Regions from separate parts of the Homo sapiens genome. Here region 2 is linked to region 1. The links come from fine-mapping of genetic effects on gene expression. A gene starts in region 1. The other region holds a variant in brackets. All regions are shown on one strand. Distances are between the middles of the regions. Region 1 holds the start of ZNF223 (zinc finger protein 223). Region 2 overlaps ZNF284 (zinc finger protein 284).

The links.
Region 2: its variant is fine-mapped to the expression of ZNF223 in whole blood (TOPMed, PIP above 0.99).

The regions. Positions count from the first base shown.
Region 1 is chr19:44,048,303-44,056,641 of GRCh38, forward strand. It overlaps ZNF223 (zinc finger protein 223), which reads left to right and starts at 3,734. Exons shown (of 5, transcript NM_013361.6): 1 at 3,734-3,893; 2 at 6,807-6,889. The coding sequence starts at 6,875. RefSeq lists enhancers at 3,400-3,901, 3,721-3,960 and a silencer at 3,621-3,680.
Region 2 is chr19:44,074,479-44,082,817 of GRCh38, forward strand. ZNF284 (zinc finger protein 284) reads left to right here. Exons shown (of 5, transcript NM_001037813.4): 2 at 1,844-1,926; 3 at 6,537-6,663; 4 at 7,535-7,627. The coding sequence starts at 1,912. Among named protein-coding and RNA genes, the nearest start is that of ZNF284, 6.5 kb to the left of the region's middle. The variant A/G (reference allele first, on the strand shown) is at 4,998.

The DNA of each region.
Region 1 (8,339 bases):
TGGTTTTAGGAGGTAGAGCCTTTGGAGGGTGATTAGATTATGAGGGCAGAACTCTTATTAATGGGATGAGTCCCTTTGTAAAAGAGACCTGAGGAAACTTGTTCATCACTTCCACCATTTGAGGACATTGCAACAAGGTGCCACCTATGAACCAGAAAGCAGCCCCACTTCAGACATAAAATCTCCCAGTGCCTTGATTGTGAGGAATAAGTTTCTGTTGCTTATAAGCCAGCTAGCCCATGGTTTTTTGTGACTAAGAATATTGGTATTGAGAAGTGGGATTGCTGTTGTAACAAATATCTAAAAATGTGGAAGTATCTTTGTGACTGTATAATGGGTAGAGGCTGGGAGACTTCTGAAATGCATGCTAGGAAAAACCTACATTGTCATGATTGGACTGTTAAAGACAATTCTGGTTAGGGCTCAGAAGGACAGAATGAGAGCTAGAGAAAGCATCAGTCTTCTTAGAGTAAACCTATGTGGTCACGATCAGAATGTTGATAGAAATATGGACAGTAAAGGCCATTATGATGAGACCTCAGTCAGAAATGTGGAACATGTTACTGGAAACTGAAGAAAGCGGGGTTCTTGTTATAAAGGGGTAAATAATTTGGCTGAATTATATTCAGGTCCTAGTGTTTTTTGGTAGGTAGAACTTGTGAGCAATGTAATTGAATATTTAGCTGACACTATTTCTTAACAATGTGTTGAAGTTGCATCTTGAATAATCTTGACTACCTATAGTAAAATGTAGAAAGTGAGAAGTGACTGAAAGCCGGAATTACTAATTAAAAGGTAAAGAGAACTAAATACTTTTAAAATTTGCAGCTTATCTACTTTGGAAAACATGCAAAACCCTGTCCTGGAGAAAACAAGGGTGTGGCTGAACAACTGATTTATGAGATTAGTATGGATTGACCATGTTGACTCAAACCAGGACCTATTGTCCAAGACAATGGAAGAATGACCCCAGAAGTATTTCACAGATCTTGGAGGCTGCTCCTCCCATCAGAGGCCCAGAGCACAGGGACGTGGGCAACAGCAGGGACCTTTGATGCCAGGTGCCGCCTAACATCTCAGGCTCAGCTCCTTGCATACACTACCACTGAGAGTATCAATAAATTTTATCTTTTGTGAATGCAGAGTAGAGTAAGGATACAGCTGTAATTGGTATAGGAATAGCCATCACTCAATTTTCAAGGGGGCATTGAAAATTTGTTTGGCACTATGTGGTTGCTCAGTCACCTTAATTTTTGTCCAAACCAAACTGTGAAACGTCAGCCAGGTGCAGTGGCTCACACCTGTAATCCCAGCACTTTGGGAGGCCAAGGTGGGCAGATCACGAGGTCAGGAGATTGAGACCATCCTGGCTAACACAGTGAAACCCCCATCTCTACTAAAAATACAAAAAATTAGCCAGGCGTAGTGGCACATGCCTGTAGTCCCAGCTACTTGGGAGGCTGAGGCAGGAGAATCACTTGAACCCAGGAAGCAGAGGTTGCAGTGAGCCGAGATCGCGCACTGCACTCTGGCCTGGGCAAAACAGCAAGACTCTGTATCAAAAAAAAATTGTGAACAGTCTTTTTTTAATTTTTTTTTATTTTTTTTTACTTTAGGAAAATGGATACAGGACATTAGACTCTTTTTAAAAAGAAAAATATAGGTCGACAGGTCAATGTATGTTTATTTGGGAGGACAAAAAATATGGTTTATCTTCAAAAGAGAATTTTAGATGAATTGTTTCCTGATTTAGCTTTATACTATTATTAATGTCTTTCAACTAACATATGCCAGTTTTCAAATTGTTTCCTATAATGAAGATATTTTAACCAAGAAATGGAAAGGAAGAAACTCTTAATAATAAATCATGCTCCGTCACCTATAGAATCTTCTCCAGTTTTATGGCATTGAATCAGACATTGGGTGTCAGATTGATACCAATGCCAAGCTCTTCAACAGTTATACTTGCTTTAAGATACTTAGCAATTCACTAACTTCTCTGAAATTTAGCGTTTCTACATCTAAAGTAGAAATATTACTACCATGAGAATGTTAAATGTAGCTTTTCCATGAGGACACAGCTTCTCCATTGGTGGCTGGAATTTTGTTTTTCCTGTCAAACCAGTGGTACCACAGCATCTGGACTAGGGCTGTAACTGAGAACCACCATTTTTCTAAGAGACAGCTTATTTATTTCTCTCTCTTTTCTCATTCCCTTAGTTCCCCACTTCCTATGTAGCCCTTTAAAAATGCAAATATAGACTTTTACCTCCCCTTCACCAGACACTTCCTACAGGGAAAGTTCATCTAACTGTGTGCTCCAAGCCAGAACTCTCCTCCAGAATTAACAGTCAATTTACAAACTAAAGCATGCTGGCCTCTGAACTCTCACTCACCAGGAGGTTGCCTGAAGAGACAACAGTTGAAAGCGTGCCTGCTACTCTCTCCCTTCTGGTTACAACTTATTTCTGCCCATGAAAAAGCCAGCTCAACTGCCTAATAGATAAGGCACCAAGCCAGCACACAGACCCCTTCCCTCTTCCTCCCCTACCTTTTAAAAGTGCCTGCTTTCTGCTCTAAAAGCCAAGCCGTGCACTTAAAGACAACACCTGTGCTACTTCCCCTACGCTAGCTCTAGAATAAATCACTTTCTTTATACCAGATCTCCCTCTTGTTAACTGGACGTTGCAAACGGGAAGCCACTGATCTACTTTTCAGTTACAGGGGCTGATGCTTTCCTGGCTTCTCATTGCCCCTCCCAACCCATTCTACCTGGCTCATTCTTTAAACCAGTGGTCCCCAACCGTTTTAGCACCATGGACCGGTTTTGTGGAAGACAATTTTTCCACGGACTGGGGAATGGTTTCGGGATGAAACTGTTCCACCTCAGCCATTAGATTCTCATAAGGAGCGCCTGACCTAGATCCTTCGCACGCACAGTTCACAATAGGATCCGCGCTCCTATGAGAATGTAATGCTGGGCTGATCTCACAGGAGGTGGAGCTCAGGCCATAATGCTCCCTCACCTGCCGCTCACTTCCTGCTGTGCCGCCCGGTTCCTAACAGTCAGTGGACCGGTACAGGTCTGTGGCCCTGGAGTTGGATATCCTTGCTTTAAACCCTGAGCCTCCTTTCAGCCATCTGACGGCTCAACAGTCACTCTATCTAGCTCCTTGAATATTGTATCTCCTCGCTTGTTCCCTGTCCAAGAACACTCCTGTCAATCATGGGAGACATTTAGACTTCATAAATTCTTTCTATTCAATATTTTCGCTCGAGGACTCTGGGAAGGACAACTGTCAGGGTAACAGTCTGCATTCCCCACCAGGAACCTGGGGCTATGAAATTCGTTCCCCGTGGGTGTTGCGGGAAGTGTAATCGAGGAGCACCATGTAGTCGCAACACTTGAGCCTAAAGGGTGAGGTGATGGACATTTTCCTTTTGCATCTGAGGCTCTGCAGTCCAGACACCTTGCGGGATTCCTGATACTTCAGCTCAGGTAGGCGTTTCCGGAGAATTCTGGGAAGAGTAGTCCATTTTACGGGAAGTGTAGTCCACTGGCTCGTGGAACACTGGGTATTTTGGCTCTGGCAGGTGAACCGTTGAATTCTGGGAACGATAGTCCAGACACTCTGCGGAGTCCCGGGCCCTTTGGCTCAGGGGGGCGGGTCCGGGGAATTCTGGGGAGTGGAGTCCAGACACTCTGGCGCAGAGAGGACACTTCCGGTCTCCTAGTCTGAGGTTCCTGCTTTAATGACCGGGGTAGTTTGAGCCATTTCTGCGTCTTGCAGGACATTTTGAACGAACCCCCTTTGCTTGAGGCTCGCAACCACCCGATGATCGATGATCGTCTCAGGGGAAAAGAAGCCTTGGCGAAGAGCAGAGGTTTAGAGGTGCGAGGGCGGGGAGGGTGTTTATTGTTCCCGTCAGCGGAGCCTTCTGGCGTCGGGGGGCTTTGCTCGCCTCCCGGGGGGTGGGATTGGGGTGGCCTTGTGTGCCCTGCTCTGAGGGTTTCCAGGACTTTGACCTCGCTCAGTCCGCCTCCCTACGTATGCAGTGTGTACACTCTTTCTCGCAGTGTGATGTGGAATGTTAATGTCTCTGTACTTCCCATTGCTGTTCTTTAAAATGGTGCTTATAGGGTCATCCTAATAGAATTGTTTTGCGAATTGAAAGAGATAATACAAATGAAAGCCTTAAAGTTGTCCCTGTCACTTGGTGAGTGGTCTCTTGTTGCCTGATATTTTAAAACGTTTGATATCATTTCAAAGCTATAGAAAAATTGCAAAAACAGTATAAGAAATTCTCATATACCCTTTACCCAAATTTGCCAAGTGTTTACATTTTTCCTGTTTGCTTTGTTGATGACCATCAACCAAATACCACCAGGAACATACCTGTAACCAGAGACAGCTGATTGGTAGCTTTCTGCAGCAAGGAAGCCCACATACCACGGTAATTGTGGGGTGTCTTGGTAAGAGGCATTTAGGAAGGGCTGGTTATAGGGTTTCACATAACATGGTAGATAATATTGGATATTATGTTAAATAATACTGTTACCGATTACATGTCAGATAGATGTGTTAAAAGAATACTAGTATTTGTAGTGTACTTACTAGATAGTGTTGGATAGCATATTACCTAGCATCATGTTATCTAATCTGCAGTTCCATATACGAATTTGTTAAATTTTTCATTTAAAGTCCTTATGACTGTCCTCTGCCCCACCCTTCACCTATTCAAAGTCCAGTTTATGCGTTGTCTTTAGCTGTCACATTTCCATAGTTGTTCATTTGGAGTTTGATATTGAAGGGGGCCTGCCTCTCCACACCTGTGGGTGTTTCTCACAAGGTGGAAATGAGAAACTGAGAAAAGAAATAAGACACAGACACAAAGTATAGAGGAAGAAAAGTGGGCCCAGGGGACCGGCGCTCAGCAAATGAGGACCTGTACCGGCACTGGTCTCTGAGTTCCCTCAGTATTTATTGATCACTATCTCTACTATCTTGGTGAGGGGGATGTGGAAGGACTATAGGGTAATGGTGGGGAGAGGGTCAGCCGGAAAACATGTGAGCAAAGGACTCTGTCATAAATAAGTTTAAGGAAAGGAGTTGTGCCTGGATGTGCACATAGGCCAGATTTATGTGTGACTTTACACAAACATCTCAGTGCAGTAAAGACCAGTATTGCCGCCAGTATGTCTCACCTCCAGCCATAAGGCGGTTTTCTCCTATCTCAGTAAATAGAATGTACGATTGGGTTTTATACCGAGACATTCCATTCCCAGGGATGAGCAGGAGACAGATGCCTTCCTCTTACCTCAACTGCAAAGAGGCCTTCCTCTTTCACTAATCCTCCTCAGCACAGACCCCTTATGGGTGTCGGGCTGGGGGACGGTCAGGTCTTTCCCTTCCCACGAGGCCATCTCTCAGGCTGTCTCAGTGGGTGGAAACCTTGGACAATGCCCAGGCTTTCTTGGGCAGAGGTCCCTGTGGCCTTCCGCAGTGTATGGTGTCCCTGGTTAATCGAGACTGGAGAATGGCAATGACTTTTACCAAGCATACTGCCTGCAAACACATTTTTACCAAAGCACATCCTGCACAGCCCTAAATCCATTAAACCTTGAGTCAATACAACACATGTTTCTGCGAGCACAGGGTTGGGGCTAGGGTTACAGATTAACAGCATCTCAAGGCAGAAGAATTTTTCTTAGTACAGATCAAAATGGAGTTTCTCATGTCTTCCTTTTTCTACGTAGACACAGTAACAGCCTGATCTCTTTTTCTTTCCCCTACAGATATATTTCACATTTAGGTTTAGATTATACATTGTTGGTGGGGATTCCACAGGAGTGTTAAGATGCCCTTTTCTTTTTTTTTTTTTTTGTTTGAGACAGTTTTGCTCTTGTCACCCAGGCTGGGGTACAATGGTGCAATAGGATGCCCTTTTCATTGTAACATAACAAGGTCCAAGTGATGTTCGTTTGTCCCTTCATTGGTGATCTCAGCTTTGTCACTGGCCAAGAAGATGTCTTTCAGATTTTTCCACTCTTATGTTACTTTTTTTTAAATTATGAAGTTTCTTATGGGAAAATACATTATTAGTGGGCATTTTCTTGTAAAAAAGAGCTTCCATTTCTCCTCTATTGGTTCATTGATTTGTTCAACTATAAATATTCTATCAATGTGGACTCAGAATCCAGTCTTATTGATTCTAATGATATGTGCATTAACAGTTTTTTTTTTAAACTCTAGGTTTATTTTAGTTATAGCATTCACCCATTTCAGGTATACAAGTCAGTTCAGTGGTCTTTAGGAACTTTGAAGTGGGGTAATCATCATCATAATTCAGCCGAGATCACTTTCATCCCCCAGTTGGACTCCTCATGCCCATTTACTTTGAACCTCATTCTCAACTCAAATTTAGAACAACTGCTAACCTACTTTCTATTCTATTCTACTTGTCTATTCCAGACATTTCATATAAATGGAATCGTAGGGTCTGTGGGTTTTTGTGACTTGCTTCTTTCATTTACTGTAATGTTTTCAAGGTTCACGGGTGTTGTTGCATGGGTCAGTATTTCATTCCTTTACATTTCCAAATAAGATTCCATTGTATGAATATGCCACAATTTTTCTGTCCCTTTACCTGTAGGAGAGCTTTTTGGTTGTGTGCAATTTGGGGTTAGTATGAATAATGCTGCTGTGAGCGTTCATGTGCTAATTGACAATATGAGTCCTTGTTGGTGGGTGACATCCCTGGCCACCCTTTCATGTCTCTTTTTCTGTCTTCATGGCACTTTCCAGGCACAATTCTGCTTTCCCTGGAACTGTGTCATTCAGGACTCTGCAAATTCCCTAAAGTAGGAGGAAAAATGACCATGTCCAAGGTAAGTAGGACTTGCCTCTCTTACTGTTAAAATTCCATCTCACTACTCAGATTGTTGTGTGTTTTTCTCTGCCCTGGGAAGACTCAAGGAGAACAGCAGGACTTTGAGGATCTCTTGTCACCTGGCTAATTTTTGTAGTATTAGTGGAGATGGGGTTTCATCATGTTGGCCAGGCTTGTATCGAACTTCTGACCTCAAGTGATCTGCCCGCCTCGGCCTCCCAAAGTGCTGGGATTATAGGCGTGAGCCACCGCACCCAGCCAGAAAGCCTTCATTTAAAATGGCTAGTAATACTGGGCTGGGTGCAGTGGCTCACACTGGTAATCCCAGCACTTTGGGAGGCTGAGGCAGGCGGATCACCTGAGGTCAGGAGTTCGAGACCAGTCTGACCAACATGGAGAAACCCCATCTCTACTAAAAATACAAAATTAACTGGGCATGGTGGTACATGCCTGTAATCCCAGCTACTCGGTAGGCTGAAGCACGAGAATCACTTCAAACCGGGAGGCGGAGGTTGCAGTGAGCTGAGATTGGGCCATTGCACTCCAGCCTGGGCAACAAGAGTGAAACTCTGTCTCAAAAAAGAAAACAAAACAAAAAAAGTCTAGTAATACTGAAGATTGGCCAGTCACTTGTGTACTGTCACTCATTTACTTCTCAAAGCAGCAGAATGAGGAGGTTCCTGATCTCTTCTCCTAAACTCATGAAATATGAGAAACCTGCTCAAAATCAGAGGCAATCAAGGAACAGGAATGTTAGCCATTCTGCTCAAGTGAAAGAGAGAGACGAGAAGAAAGAAAAATTCTCCACTGAGGGTCTGGTGACCTGTTGTGTGGATGTCTGGAGTGCTCCCTTGAGTGATGACATCCATAGGTGGCGCTGCTTCTCCCTGTCCTGCGTTGGTGTGACCTCTTCTTTTCCAGACCTGGCACCTACTCAGGTGTACTCATTGTTCCAAGTACCCAAGGACAGTGATTACCACAGCTGTTCTTATCTCCAAATTCCTCCTTATGGCACAAGATACCTCACACATTTTTTCTTTGGCTGGGCGCGGTGGCTCACACCTGTAATCCCAGCACTTTTTCGGAGGCTGAGGCAGGTGGATCACTAGGTCAGGAGATAGAGACCATCCTGGCTAATATGGTGAAACCCCGTCTGTACTAAAAATACAAAAAAAAAAAAAAAAAAAAAATTAGCCGGGCGTGGTGCGGGCGCCTGTAGTCCCAGCTACTCGGCAGGCTGAGGCAGGAGAATGGCGTGAACCCAGGAGGCGGAGCTTGCAGTGAGCCGAGATCGCGCCACTGCACTCCAGCCTGAGTGACAGAGTGAGACTCTGTCTCAAAAAAAAAAAAAAAATCCCTAAATTCCTCCTTATGGCATAAAATGCCTCACCATTTTTTTTTTTTTTTTTTTTTTTTTTGAGATAGAGTCTCTCTCTGTTGCCTAGGCT
Region 2 (8,339 bases), 26 kb after region 1:
GTTTACATTTTTCCTGTTTGCTTTGTTCTTGCTGATCACCCAGATACCACCAGGAACATACCTGTAGCCAGAGACAGTTGCTTGTAGCTTTCTGCAGCAAAGAAGCCCACATTTCAAGATAATTGTGGGGTGTCTTGGTAAGAGGTGTTTAGAAAGGGCTGGTTATAGGGTTTCACATAACATGCTAGATACTATTAGATATTATACTGGCTAGGCATGGTGGCTTATGTCTGTAATTGTAGCACTTTGGGAGGCCGAGGCAGGTGGATCACTTGAGGCCAGGAGTTCAAGACCAGCCTGGCCAACATGGAGAAACCCCATCTCTACTAAAAATACAAAAATTAGCTGATTTGTCCACTGTGAAGTTACTTTTTTAAAATTTGAGGGGGCGTGCGCCTGTAATCCCAGCTATTAGGGAGGCTGACGCATAAGAATCATTTGAACCTGGGAGGCAGAGGCTGCAGTGAGCTGAGATGGCGCCCCTGCACTCTGATCTGGATGACAGAGTGAGACTCTGTCTCAAAAAAATAATTAAATATTATATTAAATAATATTGTTATCTATTACATATCACATCTGTTAAAAAGCTAATAATAGTAGTTGTAGTGTCATTTATTAGATAGTGTTGGATACCATATTACATAACGTTGTTATCTAATCTGCAGCTTCCATATTTAAATTTATTCAGTTTCTTCTTTTGGTCCTTATAACTATCCCTTGCCCCACTTTTTACCTGTAACCCCATTCAAAGTCCAATTTTATGCATTGTCTTTATTGTCACATTTCTATACTTTTGTTTAATCTAGAAGGATTCCACAGCCTTTGTCTTTTATATGCATGGTTTTTTGAAGAGTATAGGCAAGTTGTTTTGCAGAAAGACATTCATTTGGGGTTTGTCTGGTAAATTTCATGTTTACGTTTAGAGTATGCATGATTGGCAGGGATACCATAGTAGTGGTGAGATGTCCTTTTCATTGCAACCTAACAGTGTCCAAATGATGTTGGTTTGTCCCTTCACTGGTGATCTCAACTTTGTTCACTTGGCCAAGATGAAGTCTTTCAGATTTGTCCACTGTGAAGTTACTTTTTTTAAATTTTGAAAATAATAAAGTTCCTTATGGGGAGATACATGATTAGTGGACATTCTACTGTAAAGAAGAGTTTCCATTTCTCCCCCATTTATTCATTCCTTCATTCAACTATAAATATTCTATTGATATGGACTCAGAATTCAGTCTTACTGATTTCAATGACATGTAGATTAACAATTATTTTTTCCAATTCTATCAAGATGTATTTCACATATAGCTTTCACCCATTTCAGGCATGGAACTCCGTGATTTTTAGGAATTTTGTGAAGTGGAATAACCATGATCATGATTCAGTTTAGATCATTTTTATCTCCCAGTTGGACTCCTTGTGCCCATTTATAGTTAAACCTCATTCTCATCTCAAATGTGAAGCAACCACTAATCTACTTTCTCTATGATACATTTGCCTATTCTGAACATTTCATATAAATGCGATCACACAGTCCATGGGTTTTTGTGACTGCCTTCTTTCATTTAACATAATGTTTCCAGGGTTCATGCATGTTGTAGCATGAGTCAATATTTCATTTCTTTAAATTTCCAAGTAAGATTTCATTGTATGGATAGGCGACAATTTGTCCATTTACCCATAGGAAGGCATTTTGGTTGTGTGCAATTTTGGGTTATTATGAATAATGCCCCTGTGAACATTCAAGTGCTAATTCACAACACATGTTCATACTGTTGGGTGGCATCACTGACCACCCCTTCATGTCTCTTTTTTTTTTTTTGCCTTCCATGGCATGTTTCAGGCACAATTCTGTCTTCTCTTGAACTGCATAACTGAGAACTCTGCAAATTCCCCAAAGAAGGAGGAAAAATGACCATGTTCAAGGTGAGTAAGTCTGGTCTCTTTTGCTGTTCAGATTCTGTTTTGCTACTTAAGATTGTCACATGTTTTTCTCGGTCTTGGGAAGACTCAAGGAGAACAACAGTTATTTGTGCACCTGTTGTGTGCCAGATGCTTCCTTGTTTCTTTTGTGTTGAATTTGCGTTTGGATTTGATTTTGTTTACTTTTACCATTATTTATGTTATGAGTAGAAATTTAGTGGGAAGGAACAATTCTCCCATTTCACTACATCTTTTCTCACTAATTAGGCATTTTTATTTTCTCATGCTATTCCTCATGTATATTCATAACTGTATTTGTATTGATACTTATCTAATTTAAATTGTGTTCTTTGTGTTTAATATTATGTAATATTCATTATTTATGGTTGCATCATGTTCCCATTGAATTGATGCTCCTTTTTTTTTTTTTTTCCTCGAGACAGAGCCTTGCTCTGTTGCCCAGACTGGAGTGTGGTGGCGCAATCTCGGCTCACTGCAACCTCCGCCTCCCGGGTTCAAGCGATTCTCCTGCCCCAGCCTCTCAAGTAGCTGGGATTACAGGCGCTCACCACCACACTTGGCTAATATATGTATTTTTAGTAGAGACGGGGTTTCACCATGTTGGCCAGGCTGGTCTTGAACTCCCGGCCTCAAGTGGTCTGCCTGCCTCAGCCTCCCAAAGTGCTGGGATTACAGGTGTGCACCACTGCACCTGCCGATGTTTCTTTTTAACTACTTTATACTCACAGGCACTAGGAGCTCAGTTTTGAAAGAGTACTTTTGACATGTGCCACGTTGGTTGTTTTGTAGATAAAATATCCATATGTGGCATGGCACAGCAGGCTGTAACTGTGGCTTCACACAAGGATTTCTGGAGATTTTCACATAGGAAGAGCTAGCTTTTGTTTTCCCCATGCTTAAGTCATGCATTGTGTGTATGTTATTTACTGGTCTTTTCTTATTCCTTTATGTATTAAGGAGTTTGACCAAAATGCAGCATCCTGGGCTGCACATATATCGGTTTCGGTGAATCTTGCCAGTTGCTCCAGCAACATTTAGCAATTCAGTCTCAACTTTGTTTGATAATGCCCAGGGTTCTCGTACTTGAACCCTGGATGTAATCATTTTTCTGTCTTTTTTTTTTTTTTTTTTTTTTTTAGTTTTTTAGTTTTGGTAGCTTTAGTTTCAAATGTCCATGATATCAGAAGATTCTCTAGTCACTGTGTTCTATTCCTTTGTTTGTTCCTCAGAACAGCTGAATGATGCAGTTCTCAGCCTCATCTTCCTCTTAAATATGTGAAATATGAGAAACCTGCTGAGGTTCAGAGAGGAAACCTAGGGTCGGCATGTTAGCTATTTTGCTAAATTGAAAGAGAGAGAGAAGAAGAAAGAGGATTCTCCATTGAAGGACCTATGCCTTCTGGTATGGGTGTCTGGAGTGCCCTCTTGAGTGATGACAACCACTGGTGACATAGCTCCTCCCTGACCCCTCCTCGGGGGTCCTCTTCTCTTCCTGTTGTGCCACCTCCTCAGGTGCACCTAGTACTCCAGGCACCAAAGGACAGTGATTGCTACACTCACTATAGAAAATCTTTAAATTCCTAATGGCAAAGATGGCTTATAGAGTGTTACCAGGGAATATAACAGCCTAAGGTGAAAATATTTACCACTTTGATATCTAAAAAAGACATAATCCAAAATAAGAATCTTATGTACAGAATGGAGAAAAAAATTCAAAGGAATATGAATAAAGGACATTAATACATTAATTGGTAAATTTTAGAGAAGAAATAGAAGTGGCCAATACATATTTGAAAAGGTGATAGTATTATTTATATTCAAATACATGGGATTAATAAGGTGAATTCTCTCTAATGAGATTATCAAAATCACAGGAAATTTGATAATCTGCTTTTGGCTATTTTAAGAAAAACCAGGGTAATATATCCCCTTGAAAGATTTTGGAGTTTGAGAAAAAATTGAGATCTGACATATATGATCACAATTTTAAACATTCTTATTTTTTGACACTTTAATTTTCATTTGAAATTATTGTATTATAGTTTATTCTTATTCTTTAGAGACAGAGTTTTGCTCTGTTGCCTCGGATAGAGTACAGTGATGTAAGTGTAGCCCACTGCAGCCTTGAACCCCTGGGGTCCAGATCTTCCTGCCCCAGCCTCCCAAGTAGCTAGGACTACGGGCACGCACCACGATGCCTGGCTAGTTTTAAAAATTTATAAAGTTGGTGTCTTGCTGTGTTGCCTGGTCTGGTCTTGAACTCTTGAATTCAAGCAATCCCCCCACCTTAGCCTCTTAAAGCACTGGGATTACAGGTGTGAATCACTGCACCTGGTTTGAAATTATTAAATTAAACTAAATTATTATTTTATTTTATTTCTTTTTTGAAATAGAGTCTTGCTGTGTTGCCCAGGCTGGAGTGCAGTGGCGCAATCTTGGCTCACTACAACCTCCGCCTCCTGGGTTCAAACGATTCTTCTGTATCAGCCTCCCAAGTGTCTGGGATTATAGTCACGTGCCACCATGCTCGGCTAATTTTTGTATATTTTGTAGAGACGGAGTTTTGCTATGTTGCCAAGGCTGGTCTCGAACTCCAGAGGTCAAATGATTTGCTTGTCTCGGCCTCCAAAAGTGCTGGGATTACAGGCATGAGCCACCATACCTGGCCAAAATTATTTTCAATGATCAGACGGGAGAGTAAGGTCCACATACATGATTTTCTTTGCAGGATTGGTATTAATGAAAACTACATAAAATTAAATATTCATTATTTAGAATAAAGATAGATCATCAGTTCCCTGTAATAGTATGCAGACATGAAATGAAATAGATAACTATAATGAAAGTTATAATAAAAAATCCAAAGAAATACGAATAAAGGACATTACCAGCCAGGTGCGGTGGCTCACGCCCATATTCCCAGCACTTTGCGGGGCTGAGGTGGGCAGATCACCTGAGGTCGGGAGTTTGAGACCAGCCTGACCAACATGGAGAAACCCCATCTCCACCGGGTGTGGTGGCTCATGCCTGTAATCCCAGCACTTTGGGAGGCC[A/G]AGGCAGGCGGATCACGAGGTGAGGAGATCGAGACCATCCTGGCTAACATGATGCAACCCTGTCTCTACTAAAAATACAAAACATTAGCCGGGTGTGGTGGTGGGCGCCTGTAGTCCCAGCTACTCGGGAGGCTGAGGCAGGAGAATGGTGTGAACCCAGGAGGCGGAGCTTGCGTTAGCTGAGATTGCACCACTGCACTCCAGCCTGGGGACAGAGTGAGACTCCATCTCAAAAAAAACAAAACAAAACAAAACAAAAAACAGCAAAAAAAGAGAAACCCCATCTCTACTAAAAATACAAAACTAGCTGGGCATGGTGGCGCATGCTTGTAATCCCAGCTATTCAGGAGGCTGGGGCAGGAGAATTGCTTGAACTGGGGAGGTGGAGGTTGCCGTGAGCTGAGTTTGCGCCATTGCACTCCAGCCTGGGCAACAAGAGCGAAACTCCGTCTCAAAAAAAAGACAAAAAGGTAATAAAATTAACTAATGTTAATTAAATACCTAGTCTGTGCCACAGACTTTCCCCATTTATATTCTCTTGCTTATTCCTGGAGAAAACTGATGTGACAGTCTTTATACAGAAAGGAAACGAATGCATGTAGGCAAACTTATCCAAGGTCACGTGGCTGGGAAGGCAAAGGCACAGAGCCTTGGGATTGAGCCTTGTGAGTGAGCACACACACTCAGTGTGATCATAGGCACACTGGCTCCAGATCATGACATTCAGTGCTGCAATTAATATATGTAGTTTGCGTCTTGAATACAGAGGACCCACTCCATGGCTGTCCCACACAGGTCACTGTAAACTTGTTAGTTTGGCAGATATTAAAAAAAAAATGGGCCGGGTGTGGTGGCTCATGCCTGTAATCCCAGCGCTTTGGGAGGCCGAGGCCGGCAAATCGCCTGAGGTCGGGAGTTCGTGACCAGCCTGGCCAACATGGTCTCTACTAAAAATACAAAATTAGCTGGGCATGGTGGCAGGTGCCTATAATCCCAGCTATTCAGGAGGCTGAGGCAGGAGAATTGCTTGAATCCAGGAGGCAGGGGTTGCAGTGAGCTGAAATCGCACCACTGCACTCCAGCCTGGGCGACAGAGTGAGACTCTGTCTCAAAAAATAAAAAGAAAGAAAGAAAAATGATTACATCCAGGGTTCAAGTACGAGAACCCTGGGCATTGTCAAACAAAGTTAAGACTGAATTGCTAAATGTTGCTGGAGCAACTGGCAAGATTCATTGAAACCTATATATGTGCAGCCCAGGATGCTGCATTTAGAGTCCTAGAGGGTTACTTACAAGGAGACTTAATAAGTGCACAAAGTAAACCTATGGGACTTTTTCATCATTGCACTTCTGGTGGAGCTCTGGAAAATCAGTGTCATTGCGAGGATACAGACAGAATGAATGGGAAATCTGTATGTTGACCTACATCTTTCAAGATCCACAGCAACTTCTCACCCATCCCCTTCACCTGCTCATTGCCACCCTTCTCCCAGGAATCACTGGTCATGAGATTGAGATTGCATACGTTTGTTGTTGTAGGAGGCAGTGACCTTCAAGGATGTGGCTGTGGTCTTCACCGAGGAGGAGCTGGGGCTGCTGGACGTTTCCCAGAGGAAGCTGTATCGAGATGTCATGCTGGAGAACTTCAGAAACCTGCTATCAGTGGGTGAGCACAGGCACCCTCTGTAATGGAACATCAGGCCCCAGGAATGGCTTTGTATCCTAGGGTGTTTGTGTTAGTTTGTTCTTATGCTGCTATGAAGAAATACCCAAGACTGGGTAATTTATAAAGAAAAGACATTTCATTGACTCACAGTTCTGCATGGCTGGTAAAGCCTCAGGAAACTTACAGTCATGGTGGAAAGCCGATGGGAAGAAAGGCACCTTTTTCATATTGCAGCAGGAAGAAGTGCCGAGCAAAGGGGAAAAGGCCCCTTATAAAACCATCAGATAGGGCCGGGCGCGGTGGCTCATGCCTGTAATCCCAGCACTTTGGGAGGCCAAGGAGGGCAGATCACGAGGTTGGGAGATGGAGACCATTCTGGCTAACACGGTGAAACCCCGTCTCTACTAAAAATACAAAAAAAATTGCCGGGCGTGGTGGCGGGCGTCTGTAGTCCCAGCTACTCAGGAGGCTGAGGCGGGTAAATGGCGTGAACCTGGGAGGCGGAGCTTGCAGTGAGCCGAGATCGCATCACTGCACTCCAGCCTGGGCGACAGAGCGAGACTCCGTCTCAAAAAAAAACAAAAACAAAAACAAAAACAAAAAACATAAATAAAATAAAACCATCAGATCTCGTGAGAACTCATCCACTATCACGAGAACAGCATGGAGGAAACTGCCCCCATGATTTAATTACCTCCCACCAGCTCCCTCTTATGACATGTGGGGATTATGGGAACTACAATTCAAGATGAGATTTGGGGACACCGCCAAACCATATCAGTGTTCAAGTTCGAGTGTGCAGTGAGAACCTAAATTTCTAGTAAATTTTACCTAAGATGTATTGGGATTAAGCATGTGACTTTGTTCACAGGGCATCAACTTTCCCACCGAGATACTTTTCACTTCCAAAGAGAAGAAAAGTTTTGGATCATGGAGACAGCAACCCAAAGAGAAGGGAATTCAGGTAAGAACCAAGCAACGATGCATCCTTGTACGTGACCCTTCCATCTGTTTTACTTCTGTCCATTGCCCAACTCCATTGCCCTGGTATAAATGGCCAAACCTGTTTCCTGGATTCTTACCTCCTTCCTGCTGGTTGTCCTGCTCCCCCACCCCCTCTTCCCACCCTGACATCTGTTTTCCTCATAGCAGCCAAAGTGATCCTTAGGGAATGTAAGTCAGATTGCCATTCCTCAGCTTAAAAGCCTTTATGGCTTCTTATTTGTGTTAATGTTACAACTGCTTTAAGTGCCTTTTAGAGACCCTTGATCTGCTCTTCATCCCCTACTGCCTCTCTGACTACATCTCCATTTTCCAGCCACGTTGTACTCCCTGCTGTTTCTCCATCCTGCCAAGGACACTGTATTGCCTGTTGCTGTCACCCAGTGACCACACACTTAGCAGATTAAACAACAAACAATTATCTTTCTGTTCTTCAGATCTGAAGTCTGACACATCTCACTGGACAAAAATCAGGGTGTCCCTAGGGCTTTGTTCCTGTCTAGATGTTCTTGGGGAGAAGCCTTCACTTTAATTTACCAATCCCTAGGCACTGTCCACACTCCTTGGCTCTTGTCTCCCTTCCTCCATCTTCAAAAGCAGCTACATTGCATCTCTAACCATTCTTCCATAGTCATCTGCCACCCTTCTTAAGCCTCTGTTTTCCACATTTTGGG